Linked DNA regions of Homo sapiens: region 1 is linked to region 2. A link means that fine-mapping ties the variant in region 2 to the expression of a gene that starts in the linked region. Tissue or cell type: neutrophils. Region 2 holds a variant in brackets; the other region holds the start of a gene. All regions are shown on one strand. Distances are between the middles of the regions.

What was found. PIP is the estimated chance that this variant, and not a neighbour inherited with it, causes the effect.
Region 1: it holds the start of SLIT3, and the variant in region 2 is fine-mapped to the expression of SLIT3 in neutrophils (CEDAR, PIP 0.95).

Annotation. Positions count from the first base shown.
Region 1 is chr5:169,296,919-169,305,025 of GRCh38, reverse strand. It overlaps SLIT3 (slit guidance ligand 3), which reads left to right and starts at 3,887. Exons shown (of 36, transcript NM_003062.4): 1 at 3,887-4,513. The coding sequence starts at 4,317.
Region 2 is chr5:168,958,334-168,966,440 of GRCh38, reverse strand. The region is part of intron 4 of SLIT3 (slit guidance ligand 3); the gene reads left to right. Among named protein-coding and RNA genes, the nearest start is that of SLIT3-AS1, 51 kb to the left of the region's middle. The variant T/GTGTGTGTT (reference allele first, on the strand shown) is at 4,130.

The sequences.
Region 1 (8,107 bases), 340 kb before region 2:
TTTTTATAATACAAGTTTGAAAAAATTGGATTACACAGGGTCACTATCTTCAAGAACCTAATAGTCTGGACCAACAAGTCCAGAGGATTCCGCTTCTAAACTGGAGGATTCGGCTGCTACATGGACTCTGGGGTAGACAGACAGGAGAGCAGGAAAGGATGTTCTGGGACGGGTATTGAGTGGATGTGGAGGAGTGGTGGCAGATGAGGTGGAAGAAGCAGAAAACAACTCCAGAGTTCAAAATTGCATTGTCAGGTCTGTATTTAAGATCCTTGGATCATCAGGGCAAAGGACGGATTGGTGAAGCAAAAAACTAAGAAATAAAGTTAGAGAAATTATGTGGGGGCCAATGAGCAATACCTATGCATGAAACTAGGATCTGAACAATAGCAGGAGAACCAGAGATGAAGAGGGGATACATTGAAGAGATGGTCATGGGGAAGAATGAACAGAACTGAAGAATTAAATGGCTGTGGTGTGTGAGAGAGGGAAAATTCTTTGAGCTGTTTTGACTTCTCAATACTCCCACCCACTTTTCAGCTAATAGCTTCTGGGTTTTCCTTTGAGAGAAGGACTCCTACCTGCCCAACTGAGTGCAGTCTCCATAAAACTGTCACCCATAGTTCTTGTCTTCTCTGGCCAAAAGGGTGATCACGTGACTCAAGTCAGGACCATCAATTGCTCCCTCCTGGGAATTTGGAAATCTTGAGCTTGGCACCTAGATCCTGCCTTGGGTCTTGTCTTTGTTGAAGCCTCCATCTTCATTTTTTTCTGTAGATTCTGTGTGCTATCCATGGCTTTCTTTAAAAGTCATTTTTTGGGGAAATTCAATAAGGTAAAGTTTTTTGTTTGTTCTGAGGAACAGAACTGCCTCCGACAGTGGGCAGAGAGTAGATCTGGAGAATTCATTGGAGAACGATGAGCACAAATGGTTAGTCTGGCTGGTTGGAAACAGAAAACCTCCGCTGACTGTGGTGGCCACATGAAGGGTAGTATCTCACACAGGGAAATATACACAGGTTGACGAGAAAGTTTGAGATGGGGTTTCTTGCAGGAATGGGTGAGTAGTTTGCTTTTGAGAAACACAGGTTGAGGAGAAAGTTTGAGATGGGGTTTCCTGCAGGAATGGGCGAGTAGTTTGCTTTTGAAAAGCCTATGGAAAAGTAAAGGGGAAAATTCAAAAGTGTCCAGGGACTTTTACGCAACTCTAAAAATGACACCACAGAGTGTAAAGCCACCTCTGGCCCTTGGACATAGAAAGTTCTAAACAATAGCCTGACCTCCTAGTGATTTACCCAGTCTTCTCCAAGGAGGGTAATTGCTCCATGGGGTGGCTACCGCCTTCTGCAGATGCCCCAGAATCAGCTGAGGAAGTGGACAGAGCCACATGTTCAGCATTGGAAGCCCGGAGTCCTGGCTCTGGTTATTTCACTAATTAGCTAGGTGACCCTACATAAATGCCCGCCTTTCTCTGAAACTCAGCTTCCTTGTTCGTAAAATACAAGAGTTGAACTATATTTGGGTTCTCAAAGTATGTTCCAAGAGAATTTGCAGTTTACATGAAAAGTGGTCCTCTATACTGAGAAACTGGGTTAAATAAGCCTTAAACAGGTTTCCTTACTGCAGGACTTCTCAGGAACTTAAAAACACTCATCTGTGATGCAATTCTCCAAGAGGGGTGAAGGTGAGTAGCATTTCTCAATCTGTCTTTGCCCAAGGAGACTTTTTTCTCCTCCATGATGAAACATGTGGAATCAGTAGTCATCAGAAGGCACTTGTAGAAATGTTGGATTAGGTGATTTCTAAGGCTGTACCAGCCCAAACACTCCATGATTCTGTGTATCCTGGTGTTCTGGGCCCCTCCTGTATTTCCCACTTGCCTCCTCCTTGGGGATGATTGACTCTGAAGGAAATCCTCACCATCTGTTCTAAGGGGCTTCTCCCAGGAAAAGTCACACTTGAATGCCTATAAAGTCCCTTAAAGATACAGTCTGGCTCATGAAACCCCCCTGAGCAGCTTAAATGGAAAACGCAGTCCCCCACTGCGCTCAGAGCACAGATCCAGGACCAGCCCGAAGGGATTGCAAAACATGCTCTAGCATGCATTTGGGAAAACAAAGAAAACCGTACTGTTTTCTGCTCCAGACAGTCTGAGACGCTTTGTGCCCTTGGGCCCTTGCCCGGTTCTCTCATCTGCCTCAGTCCTGGTACTAAATTGGTTCAAGGTTTGGAGGAAAGCTTCAGAGCAAAGGGATAAAAGGATGTTTAGAGTTCTTAAATACCGAAGTCACCCTGAAGACCGGAGCATAGACCCTCGCCAGCCACCAGGGGGCGATAACAACAGCATCTGTACAGAAAGCCGTTCCCAAGAATAACAGCAGTAAATTGCACCTAATGTGTTTATGAATGATGAAGGGACTCGAGTGTGTGTGTTTGAGTGAGTGTGCGTATGTGTGTGTTTGTGTGTACGCGCGCGCAAGTGGGTGCCCAAAGCTAAGACTTTGAAAATCTGCTAAGTATAATACAATAAAATCTACAACTCTACTATATATTCACAGGATGTGGTCAAGTAGTTGAAAGTTTCCTTGAAGGAAAATGAGGTAGAAGAAATCAGAATAGTATTCTTATGAAAGAAAAGAGAAGCGCTCTCAGGAGTATAGTTGTCACTATGTGAGTGTGTGTGCGAGCATGCATGTACACGTGTGTGTGATTGCCGGTGTATAAATGGGTGTGTGTGAGCCTGAGTATGTGAGAGTGTGTGCGTGGCTGTGAATACGTAGGCACCAGTGTGTGTGTATATATATGCAGGGCTCATTCAGGCCTTCTCAGTGTGAGGGGACCTCAAGGAAATCTGGGCAATACTTCCTCCAGTTCCTGCCCTTTCCTTTCAAACAAACAAACAAAATCATTCCTACAAGTATTTATGGAGCCTCTAACGCACACGCCCCTCCCCACTGGCATCTGGAAAAGCTCAGACCTAGCCAATTTAAAGCGGGCGCTGGAAGAAAGAAGGCGCTGGGGACAGAAGGGATGCCTCGTCTGCGAATGACTTTTGCAAAAACACGTTCTCTTCTGTGATGCTCCAAACAACCCAGGGAGGTGAGGCCAGGTAGGACTGTGGCCCCGGATTTGAGAAAACGAAGGCTCAGAGATGACACGATTGGCCCAGAGTCACCCAGTCAGGAAGCAGAAACCCGAGGATGGAACAAGGCATTGTCAATCCAGGGGTCCAAGTCGCTGCCATCACTACTTTTACCAGTCCACCAAGCGCTGGGTCTGGGCAAAGCAGGGCAAGTTTCCGGGTAAGGTTTGCCAGCAGTGACCTCAACAACATGGACCACGGTGTGTGTGTGTGTGTAGCTGTGGAGTACATTGGTGTCAACCAAGGCTCTTCAGGCAAAATTGTGGATCTCTGCCATGAGTACTAGGTGCGGTAGGGAAGCGGCTTCGTGGGCGACACTGCCATGGTTTGGCGTCCCTAGCAGCTGTGCGACCTCCAGCAAGTCGCTTCACTTCTCTGAGCTGTTTTCAGACGACCCCTTGGAAGATCGTGGACTTAAGTAAAGAATATGAGTAGAGTGCTCAGCTCAGTGCAAAAATTAAAAAAAAAAAAGTGTCAGGAGCCTTATCCGTCCTTGGATCTTAACAGTGAATGAGTTTCAGTGTTTCTTTCCAGGGGCCCTGCTGGCCGAGCCCCTTTCCTTCCCTGGTTCCTTCTCTCTCCCTCCTCTACTGCCTCCTCCCTCCAGGCTCTCGGTCGCTCCAGCAAAGTTCCCAACTTAGTCGACATGACGCGCGGCGCAGCCAATGGGAGGCGGAGTTGGCGTTTCTTGGTCGGGGGGGGGCCGGAGGGGTGGGCCCCGCGTCTCCGGTGTCTGCCGTGCTCACTGAATGGAGAGAGCGAGCGCCGGCCAGCTCACCCGGCCGCCCCGTGCCCCAGCCGCAGCCGCCGCGCTCCCCAGCCCAGCCCCAAGCCGGACCTCCCCGGGCGCCACGCCCCATTGCGCTCGCCCCAGGTCCCCAACCCGGCCCGCGGGCCAGCGGGGCCAGGGGGCGCTCCGCACCTGGGCACTCCCAGCGATGCGCAGCGGGGCAGCGCCGGCCCCGCCGATGGAGCTGCTGTTGCTGCCGCCGCCGCCGCCCGGAGCGCCCCGCTCCGCCCGCGCCCCGTGCGCCTGAGCACCGAGCTCGCCCCTCCTCCGCGCTAACTCCGCCGCCCGCTCCCCAGGCCGCCCGCGCTCCCCGCGCGCCTCCTCGGGCTCCACGCGTCTTGCCCCGCAGAGGCAGCCTCCTCCAGGAGCGGGGCCCTGCACACCATGGCCCCCGGGTGGGCAGGGGTCGGCGCCGCCGTGCGCGCCCGCCTGGCGCTGGCCTTGGCGCTGGCGAGCGTCCTGAGTGGGCCTCCAGCCGTCGCCTGCCCCACCAAGTGTACCTGCTCCGCTGCCAGCGTGGACTGCCACGGGCTGGGCCTCCGCGCGGTTCCTCGGGGCATCCCCCGCAACGCTGAGCGCCTGTGAGTACCCCTGCCCCACCCCACGCGGGCCACCCACCTGGGTCCCACCGAGGGGGCCCCAGGCGCCAGATCCGTCCTTTCCCCTCGGCCTCCCTGGATGCAGTCTCTATTCTCATCCCTTCCTGGATACGATCCCTCACTCTCCGAGCTGGGGGTCTGTAGGCTTGGTCAGATCTGGAAAGAGAGGTCTCGAAACCCCCAGCGATGGGCAAAGAGCAGTGCCTCTCCAGGGGTGAGGGTTCCAGACGCAGGGCCCGCTGACAGCTTCCAAGGAGTAGCTGAGGAGAGGCGAGGGGAGGCAAGAGCACTGCAGCCTCAAGGTCTTAGGGTGAGGGTCAGGGGTCTGCGCTCGTTAAAAAGGGGGGCGGGCGAAGGAGAAAGCTATAGGATGATGGGCCGTCAAGGCGCGGAGGCGGGAGAGAGGGCCCGAGACTGTTGACCTGCTTGGAGATCAGAATGGGCCAGCCGCTCTCTGGCTGCCCTTGCAAGGAAAGTTGAGAGTGTGGGTGAAGGTTTAACTTCTGAGGAACTGGACAGATTCAGAGTGGGTGCTCGCAAAACCCGCTCTGCCTGGAGCGCAGTCTGGGAGATGCCAAGTTGCAGCCCCGGGTGAATTTTTTATGGCTCGGTTATAAATGCCTCCCCGAACGAAGGGGCCGGAGAATGGAAATGCTGACAGCCCTTCAAATGAGACCGAGCGTTATAATCTTACAAACCGCACTCAGCCTCAGATCCTGGGCTTGGCAGCGAATGGAGAGGCGCTTGGAGAATGGGGTGGATTGACCCTAGTTTTAGCCCCAATTGTGCAACCAAATATTTACTTTTCATATGTCAACGTTTTGGAAACATTTATCATTTTGATCCTCGGACCAGATTCAAAACTTGGACTCCGGGGTGGGCTCCTCTTAGTCCGCAGTTGGGGTGGGGTAAGGGAGTGGGGGAGAAACGCTGGAGTGGGTGGGAAGCCTTACTGGGAACCCAGCCGAGAAGTGGGTGAGGGTTTGCTCTAGTGTGGTAGATTCCCTCCGTGTCTTGCTCTCCCTCTTCTCCCCTTCCTCATGTGCCTTAGGGGTAGGCGCCTGGATCTTCCACTCTGCTTTCTTGACTTCAGGCTGGAAGAGAGTAGTGATGACAAGCATTGTCCTAGAGTGTGTTATTCCTGCTAGTCACCTCCTATCACCCCACCTCCTCTTCTCTTCCACTTCTTTGTGCATCTCTGGGTGGAGACTCAGCAGAACTGTCTTCCTTATTCCTGGTGCTCTCTTTTTCCTTTGGCTCAGTACTTTTTTGTTTTTCCACAAGTGCAGTGATTGTTTTGTTGGGTTGAACCACAGAATCCTAAAGGGTGAGAGCCGAATCTTTATTAACACATGTCGAAAACCAGGCTTGGAAGTGTAAAATGACTTGCCCAAGAAAACACAGCAAGTTGACGGCAATAAAGGGGCTAGAATCCAGGTTTTCACACCTTAATTCAGACATTAAGTTAGTCCATAGGAGTGAAAAACTTGTTTTAGTGGTATTTTTAGATACCTATAACTTGTAAACTAAGTTCCCCTCCTCGTCACACCAGTGCTAGCCACATGAGTTAGTGAAATAATAATTATAGCTAATGTTTGATAAATGCTTTTCATGCCTTGATTTGTGTATATGTATTATCTCATTGAATCACTCCAACAGTCCTGTTAGTTACATAGGCAATGCTTATTACTCCCTTTCACAGTTAAGCCATCTTGTCATTTACTCAAGGTCGTGCAGCTAGTGAAGTGTTTGGATCCAAGCCTGACTGGTTCCTAAGCCCACAACCGTTATCACTCTCCTGGTCATCCTTGGAACAAGGGTCAGTTTGGGCCACGATCTATAAACAGACAGTCTTGGGAGGGTTCTGGCTGGGCTTGGATCTTAGAATAGGCTGCTGTTGCTTCTGCTTCTGGTATACCCTGCAAATGTTCAGCTCACTTTGATGTTAGGTCTGCTGCTTGGGGTCTCGCAACTACATCTTCCGCATCTTCAAAATCGTGCTCCATGTTTGGGAAACCAAGAAGAGTAAGTCCCTCTCCTCCTGGTGTGTAGGAAGTTTTCCAGAGCTGCAGGAACCGCACCCATGCCAGCATGCCACCGAGTCATCTTCCTTAGGGGATCTGTGCAGCTCAGGGCAACCCATCAGCTCTAGAACTGGAGAAACAGGACAGAGACTGGAGTCCTGGTCATTCCCAGAGGCCCCCTGCTGCAGTCGTTAATAGGCAGTGGCAGAGCAGGAGCTTCTTTGATGTCTCTGGTCTCTTCTGCCTCAGTTGTGGTCACTGGTGCCACTTTGGCCAGGGTGCATGGGGGTGCCGCGATGGTATCTCATTCTAGTCTCCTTCCTCCCTGGGAATGGGGGACAGTCTGTAGGAGCAAGCTGGGTCAGGTTCACTGCAGGGTTTCAGGGCAACCCACCAACAGTCCTTCACCACCAAAGTCCTGCACCACACTCTCTCTCAGCCAACTCAAATGTAACATTTCAATTCTGAAAACTCTTGGGGGATATTTGGCATTTTTACTCTCTGCCAAGGATTTCTTCAGAGGAATCACTCATTTATTCCTGCCTTCATTCATTCAACAAACATTACTTGAAGCCGGGCGCAGTGGCTCATGCCTGTTATCCCAGCACTTTGGGAGGCTGAGGTGAGAGGATCGCTTGAGCCTAGGAGTTTGAGAACAAACATGACTTGAACCTCTACTGCATTCCAGAAACTGTATATAGAACCATTGCAAATACAGAAGAAAACCAGCACTTCAATGTAAAGAATGTAAGCAAAAGATAGAAGGAAACTTGCTTTGGTGAGCCTTTTGAACTTCCCAGGGTTCATGTTGCCATGGGGCACGTTTTGTCAGCACTGTCATCAGATGCTCAGGACCTTCCTAAAATCCAGTTTTCTGATCTCAAAGGTTTAAATTGTGTTTTAAAACAAAGAAACTGCATTTTCTCCGTTCTCCATTCTTGGTACTCTGCCTCCCAAAAAGGCTTTGATGAAGGGATTTGTGTGTGTGTGTGTCTGTGTATATTGCTTCTCTGGATGTTTTTGACTTCTGAAACCTTGTGTTATGACATTAAGGAAAACCTGAGTGGGGATAATGTGCTCACCATTTGGACTTTGCTTCAGGCCTGGAATGGGGCCTCAATTGTTCATAATTAAGCCAGAATCAGAATTGGGGGGTCTGTGTTCCAAGATCTTCCCTATAATGTCAGAACATCACGCAGAAAAAGAAACTCTGTCTTTTATAAACTACTGACAATTTTTCCCCCTCCATGAGGAGGTGACACCCACAAGAAAGCTAAATAAATGCAGAGAAGAATTCAGTGTAATTTATTATCCGTGCAGCAAAGATAGAGGACGAGAGGAGAGGAAGTGGATGGCGGTGCCTGAAACCAAACATTTACCATGGAGCACAGAGTAAACAGATGTTGCACTTACCCTTCTGACTACAAAAGGAGCCCACAGATGTAATTCTTCTCCAACCACAATCTCAGCCTGGAAAAAGAGGAGGCAGATGAAAATGAACTCTCACACGGGGCCACTTCTCCCCATCTTGCCGTCCTTGTCTAGAGGCAGG
Region 2 (8,107 bases):
TGGTGCCCTGACCCAGGCTGCCCCTTCAATTCCAAGCAAAGTCCCAAAGCTTTGCCTTTCTCTTATAAAAAATCATGCTGGCTTCTAAAATTAAAAAAAAAAAAAAATCCAGCGAACCTCTCAGACTCTTCTAGGCAAATGATTGAACTTCATCTGGGTCCCATTTGAGAAGAGCAGGCATATAAAAATCTACATACATGGCACAGATAAGATCGAGAGCTCACCTGGGGAGACTTACAAGTGTTTCACATTCAAAGCACATGTCTCTAATGCTAATCAGATAACTGTAGAGTTTAATTCTTACATCTGGCACAAAACTCTTGCTTTTATGTTGCCTATTTTTTCCCGGAAGGTAATAAAATTCACAATCGTATCTCATAATCAATATAGCATCTCTTCAGGCACTTCTGCACATTATGACTGCCTAAGCTTTGGCCTGCTTAGGTAAGAGAACCACACGCTGTTGCTTATTTTTCCTTGTTGAGATACTCAGCTCTGAGGTCTTGCCATCTTGTGGCTTAGAAAGCAGATCTTGTTTCTCCCACTAAACAGGGTAGGATGAAGTACAGAGAGAGAGAGCGTGCGCTGGCATGAGTTCACAATTGGAGAGGTTGACACCTCACAGTACATCCTAACTGGGATTGTTGAGCTATTTACCTAGAAACCAGAAGCACCAACTCAGAATCAAGTGGAAAGTTTGCCCTCGGAGAGACAGTAAACTTTTAGGTGTCATTGCTGATAAGCGATAGAGAAGAATTCTGTCTGTACTTAGGGTAGGTGCATAATAGCAGTTTGCTACACTGGTATGTCAAAGTGCTGTTGGCATGAAGTTCATTTTGGATGAGCAAAAGATACACCAGAAGAGACCCATGTGTGAGTAGGCAGAACTCATATTTTCCTAAACTAACTTAATATTGGTCAAAATGCAATGAAAACCACAAAGATGTATTTTGGGGCTATATGGGCAAAGTAATTTAGTATTTTATAACTTTCTCAAGTTCATATTTGAGAGTAACAAGAGCAAAGGTCCCATCAAAGCCTGAACGTTTGCTCCTTAGCTATTATGATTTCAAAACCCATCTTTCTGTTTTAGATCCACTTAAAGTGAGTATCTTTCCTTGTTGAAGTGAGCAAAGTCGCCTAAACAACATGTTTATCTCTCAAATGCTAGGAGAATAGGCTTATATCTTAAGTTCTAACCATTTTTTCTTCCAATAGATATTTATAATCATAGGAGTTTTCTCTTTCATAGTACAGTACCCTAAATGAAGGAGATCATTTCTACCCTTTGAGAGTGACCCAGGTGAGCTCAATTGTTCTGAGATGAACAAAGTCCCACATACAGCATAGACTGTGCTGAGACAAGCAAGGTGCCCAGGGTGCACCATTTAAGGAGGCCCTCTCTCTTTCAGGGATGTGAGTGCTTCCTTAGAGATGTGCCCTGGGTGAGTCTCAGACACGTCTCCCTAGTCTTGGTTCTGGTCCTGGTTGTGACCTGCAGACTGCTTTTGGACACATCAACCATACCTACTATCTTTTAGAGCCTTCTTCACTGGAAATGTATTAAGGGCCCTAGTGGGCATCAGGAAATGTATTTTGCAATGTGTGCAGATGATACAGAGCAGGCATGCCTTATGGCAAAGGGGTCCCTTTGCTTATCTCCAGAGGGTTCACCTACTAACAACTGAGATTGACTGCAATTTCTTTGATGCTCATCCTGGCTTATGTTATATCTTTGCCTCAGTTATAACATTTGGGCCGAAAGATTCAAAACAAATTCTATTAGGTGACCCGAAGGCTGAAAGGTTGACTGTGTTTAACTGGATTATTTTACATTTTCTCAGTTTGTGCTTTATTTATACGCAGTAAGTTTCACTCAATCCACCTGACTTCTTACCTTTTGTCCAGCTTGAAAAATGAAATGAGTTTGGGCTTTGGCACTATGTGTTTCATAGGCTCCTAATCTCTCTTTGTATGTTTTGTTGGCCAATAATACGTAAAACTATGCCCCAGGCTTTCTTGAAGTGCATGTAAATATCTGCCTCTCTCTTATCTCCCATGGTAGTAATTCATCCAGGAAACTTACTTCCAACAGGTTAGGTATTAAACTCTCCCTCACATAAATCCACATTGGATGTCTCTGATCAAATTATAATTTTCAAAGTATTCCATCACTATGTCCAGTTAAATCGTTCCTAATATTTTCCCATGACTGGGTGACTTTTTAAAAAATCTTGATTGTGCTACAGAAGTGTTTTCCCAAATGCTTTATTAAGACTTGCACAAATGCTCACCATTTATCAGCAGGAAGTGTTTGCCTGCTTGGAGGAAAATCAAACTAGTAAATTATTTTATTTTATTTGCTTTTATGTAGCCCCCTGCATTTCTGTCCATTTGGGCTGCCTTCTTTGAGCTTGCTATTATAACTAGGGACAACTCCTCGTGGCCTCATAAATCATAATCGTTGATATTTATTGCTCAGTAGGTCTTTTAAAATCCAGTTGGAGGGGTTCCCTCCTCCCTTAAAACTCTGCCTTTTATTTTGCTTAAGGCACTATGGTAGGAAACTGAAACATATTTTCCTGGTTTTTACTTAAACTAAATGTAAGGCAAGCCTTATATAAAGCCAACAAAAGAGAGCCTGAGGTTTGAAGATGAAGGTCAGCCTCTTGGTCATTGATTCGACAAGTTCCAACCTGGCATTTGCAAGGGTTTGTCTCGCAGCAACTGCCTATCAGACGCCTATGATGGTCCAGACTCTGAATCAGGTACCTAACACACTGCTAGACAAGCAAGGCTTAGTCTCTGCCCTCGTAGAGTTGACAGTCTAATCCAGGGGTCACTGATCTTTTTCTGTAACACAGCAGATAGTAAATATTTTAGGCTTAGAATAGTCCCTGTCACAACCACTCACCTTTGCCTTGTGTGGTGAAAGCAGCCATAGACACTCTGTAAAGAAATGAGCATGAGGTTAGGCACAGTGCCTCATGCCTGTAATCCCAGCACTTTGGGAGGCCAAGGCAGGCAGAATGCTTGAAGTCAGGAGTTCAAGACCAGCCTGGCCAACGTGGAGAAACCTTGTCTCTACTAAAAATACAAAAATCAGCTGGGTGTGATGGTGCATGCCTGTAATCCCAGCTACTCAGGAGGCTGAGGCAGGAGAATTGCTTGAACCCAGGAGATGGAGGTTGCAGTAGGCCAGGATTGCACCATTGCACTCCAGCCTGGCCAAACAGTGAGTGAGACTCCATTTCGAAAAGAAAAGAAATAAGCATGAGTGACTGCATTCCAGTAAAACTTTATTTACAAAAACAGGGAGTGGGATCAGATTGGCCCCGTAGGCCATAGTTCGCCAACCCCTCGCCAAATGAAATAAAGAAGCAAAAAGCAAAAGTAAGTAAGAAACTAAATGTAATAATGACCATGTATGATCATTGCCATAAAAGAAACAAATGGGGTGCTGAGATGGACAGTTTCGGGGAGACTTGCTTTGGATGGAGTGATGGGGAAGGAACGGCTGCTGTGAAGAGATGTGATTTCAGCTGAGCCCTGAGGGAGGGGAGCAATCAGCAGTGTGAAGAGTGGGAAGGAGAGGATTTTAGGCAATGAGAACCACAGGTTCAAAGGCCCCAAGGAGGGAAAGTGCTTAGTGAGTCTAAGAGCTAAAAGGCAGCCACTGCGCCCACCTTTCATCCCTCCCAGCTTTCTTCATCCATGAAGTGGGATGTGTGGGAGTGTTGGTCTACCCCAGAGTCTGGTCATAAGAGCGCCAGCTCAGGCTGCCCTGGGGGGCCTCAGTGGGACTCCAGGGTATGGATAATGACCTTTCCTTTGGCCAACCAGGGGAGATGGGGGTTGGGCTCACTTTTTTTTTTTCTTTTCTTTTCTTTCTTCTACTTCTTAAGCAAAGACCTTTCATCAGCACACGGAATATAGAAAGCTTGCTCGGAATGTGTCAGGCTAAGCAAAAACACATGGTCTGGTTATATTCTCCTAAAATAGAGCAAGAGAAAGGCGGGAAACAGAACAGCCTCCCATAAATCATTATTTGTCTGGGGAAAAAGTCTCTGACAGATATGTGGGGTACCACTGTGTGTGTGTGTATGTGTGTGTGTGTGTGTGTGTGTGT[T/GTGTGTGTT]GTGGGGTGGGGGGTGTGGTTTGATTTCCAAGGCAGAATTTCACTGTCTGATCCTGTCTGGAGGGCAGAATGCTTGTGCTCTCCACATCTGGAAGCTGCATCTCCAGTGTGACCAGCCACTTGGGAGATGCCCTGAGCCTGTGGGACATTGAAGCCCACTCCCACCCCCACCCATGGGTACAGAAGCTGCCCAGAGATGCTGGTGGAGGCAGGATTCCAGCAGGTAGATCACCAGGGAATCTAGATGGAATCCATAGTTCTGCCCTGCAAGAATGCTGCAATTCTGTACCGTGGAGGAGCCAACAGAATCACCAGGCTCTGTGACTCAGTCACAACACCCTGACCTGCCCCTGTCCATTCTCCATATCATACCCAGAGTGGTCTTTTCAAAGCACAGCTTTGACCAATTCTCTGTCTTTCACACATACACACACACACACACACACACACACATGCGTGCATGCATGCCTGAAATAGTATAGTATTGCTCTTAAGATAAACATTAAAGTTCCTACCATGGTACAGAAAATATATGTAGTTAGGCCCCGTGGCTCTTTCTTTTCCAGACTCCTCTTACCCTTTTCTGCAACCACACAGAGCTTTTTACCAATTCTACTAACCCATCCTGCTTTCTGCACCACAGAGCCTTTGCACATACTATTCTCTCTGCACAGAAGGTTCTGTTCCCTGGTACCGGTTCACCTTGTTCTCAGATCAAGCATCTGCCTTCCTCATTAGGTCAATTTTCTCTAAACTCCTATAACACTCACATTTTGTCTTCAACGTACTTATTGCTATTATAGTTTTATATTATTTGCTTGTATTATTAATGTTGGTTAATCTTTGATTAATATGGGCTCTCACCTCCCACTCTCACCCTGCTCATCAGTCTTGGTGCAAGAAACAGCATAGAGTCTGTCTACAGCTTTTAGTTTTGTTAATTTTATTTTCATTTTGTTATGTTTGTTCATCAGTGCACTCAGACCATGTCTGGTACATGGCTGAAATAAAATACATGTCTTTTGAATGAATGAGTGGATGTGCTGGCTATTTCTTCCTGCAGTGGGCACCTGTGTAGTCTTTAGTAATTATGTCCTGTTACCTAGGGGTTTCCTCTCTACCAGGGCTTTGATCCAGTCAAAGACGCAGTGGTCTCTCACTGGATATTTTAGCAGTGAAGGGGGAAAGGGGAGGTAAGGAATGGCCATGCCTTCTGGGAATGAAGATTTTCTGAGCTGGAGGGGATGTTAGAGATTATCCATGGACTCCTCATTACACAGGTGAGGAGATGGAGCTTTTTAAAGGTCAATGGCTGGTTAGATTACTAGCCATCTTTACAGTCCAAATTGTCAGTTCTTAGGACACAGGCTCTTGCCAAAAGCCTTGCTTCCTGGCCCCTAGCCTCAGTCCAAGATCTTTCCTGAGTACAATGCCCCCACTTTTATTCCTTAAGTAAGATTAGTGTTGGCAAACTAATAAAGCTCCAGCTTTAGGTTCTATGACTGCAAAACCCTGCTGGAGCCCCAGATAGCTTCCTTTCACCAATCATAACTCGGGTTTGTGTTGCTGGCCCTGCCTTAGAATCTTAGCATTATCTGGGACACTGAGGAAGCAGCCACCACTTCCTGTCATTGAGCTGTCATCCAACCCAAGAAGGTAACTTCGGCCAGGGTGGTTTCATTTTGGACTCACACTAATAAGAACATGCCTCCTGTCATGGAATGACATGAATGATCATGGCACTTTGGAGTCAAATAGGCCTGAGTTTGAATCCCAGCTCTGCCACTTAAATCTGTGTGATCTTAAACAATTTACTATAATCCTAGAGCCTGAGCTTCCTCTGCATGTAAAGGAGATATGGGATTGTACCTCGTTTGGTTGTTATGATGATTAATGAAACCAATCACACCAAACACTTAGAACAATTCCTGGCATATAGTAGGCATTTAATACATAGTTTAAATTCTTTCTTTTCAAAAACTTTGTAATTCAGAGAAGAGGCATGGCTCCTTAACTTCTGCCTTCTGGATTCTATGCACTCATCTATGTGTGCATACATTAACCAGAGAATCACCAAGCACCGACTATTACCTGCCATGCAGTACGCCAGGTACCATAGGTACAGAGGAGAATGAGTAAGACATGGCCCCTGCCCTCCTACAGTTTAAATCCAAAAGGCAAGACAGTCATTTGACCATGCTACATAGACAATATACAACAGAATACCTGAGACTCTCTGGAGCCACCAGCCATGTTATATGGCTAAAATTCAGGACTCTGGAGCCTGCCTGCCCATGACTGATTCCTGGCTCTGCCTCTTACTGCTGTGCCTCCTTGGGCAAGTTAACCTCCCTGAGCCTTCGTTCCCTTAGCGCTAAAGTGAGGATGATAGTAGTTCCTACCTCACAGGACTGTTAGAAGTGTCCAGGCACCTCACAGTGCCTGGCACCCTGTGAGAACTCGGTAAATGTTGGCCATTATCATCTGGGATGGCACGAAATGCCACAGCCAGGGTCCTGAATGTCTCAATTCAGCAAAGGAGAAGCAACTCCAAGCTGACTCCCAGCTTGGGAGGGAAGACAAAGAGTTGGGGCCTGGGAGCTACAGAAGAACTGAGCAGCTGTGTCCTCAAGCTCCAGACGCCCTCTTCCCACGTCACTTAGGATGGATTCCTGGCCCCCACACCTGAAGTTCTGTTCTGGAGAGACCACCTACTCCAGGCAGCCTGGAGGCGGGGCCTGTGACAGGTGGTTTCTCATAATGTGAACAACTGACACTGTGTTTGCTTTTTCTTCCACTTATAGATGCTTTATCCTGCACAGACGCAGACAATGAGGCACAATGGGCTCTCCAGGGTGGTTTTCACGTGTGGGATATTTTCTTATACAGGTTTGATCACACAGTCCTGTCAACACAGACAGGGCCTTTCTTTCCCCTGATGAGCTCCATCTGGCTTTGAACACCTGTCAGAACCTAGGATGTTATTCTTGGAAGAGACTTTAAGTTCTCTATAGCACAGGCATACCCCCTCACTTACAGATGGATAAACTGAGGCCCAGAGTGAGACATAACTTGCACAAAGTCACAAGTTGGCATCAGAGCCAGGATTAAAACCCAGGCTTTGAAGTTCTCAGATATGTGGTATTTCTAATTCGCCATTTCTACATGCTATTTCCATTACTGTGTATAAGGCTTAAGGCTGAAAAGCAACCACATTCTTTTCAAATCTCAGCCCAGATTGACTGACTGGAGTCGTCTGCCAGGAAGGGTGGCATGGCCACATTCAGCTCCTGAAGGAAAGAGCTGTCATCGATTAGCAATGCCTGCCATGCATAGGAGATGGGGGAGCCCCCTGTAGCACACATTCATTACCCTTGGCCAGGTGGAAGTAAAAGGGGTACCATACCACTCATGGTGGAGGTTCATTCATAAGCCATGGATAGGAAGGAGATCCAAGGGGTTAGGTTAGATTATGTATTGGGAGGGAGAAGGATGGAGTTTGGAGAAAAGAATGTCGGTACACATGACACCTTCTTCCACCACAGCACACACAAACCATTGAATTGCCCCTTGCAGGTGACCTTCTGATCTCTTCCCGAAACCCTCTTCTCTCTCTAGGGGGAAAAGTCTTCCCAATCTATATCAAAGAACTGTCATGGATTGTGTCAAAGATTGTGGTAGATGTGAAAGGTGGAAGTGTCATATGGTGATTAAGGGCATAGTCTGTGCAGGCAGAGAGTTCTGGGTTTGAACACCAGGTTTTCACTTGATAGTTGGCTTACATTATCATTTAATCTCTTTGGGGCTCAGCTTTCTATCTGTAAAGTGGGGATGACAATACATCTTTCACAGGTTTCTGTGAGGATTAAGAGAGAATGCATATAAAACCTGGAGGACAGTGGCTGACATATAATAAATTCTCAAAAAACTGGCAGCTGGACATGAATATATCTTTAAAATACAAAATGCCATGCAGTT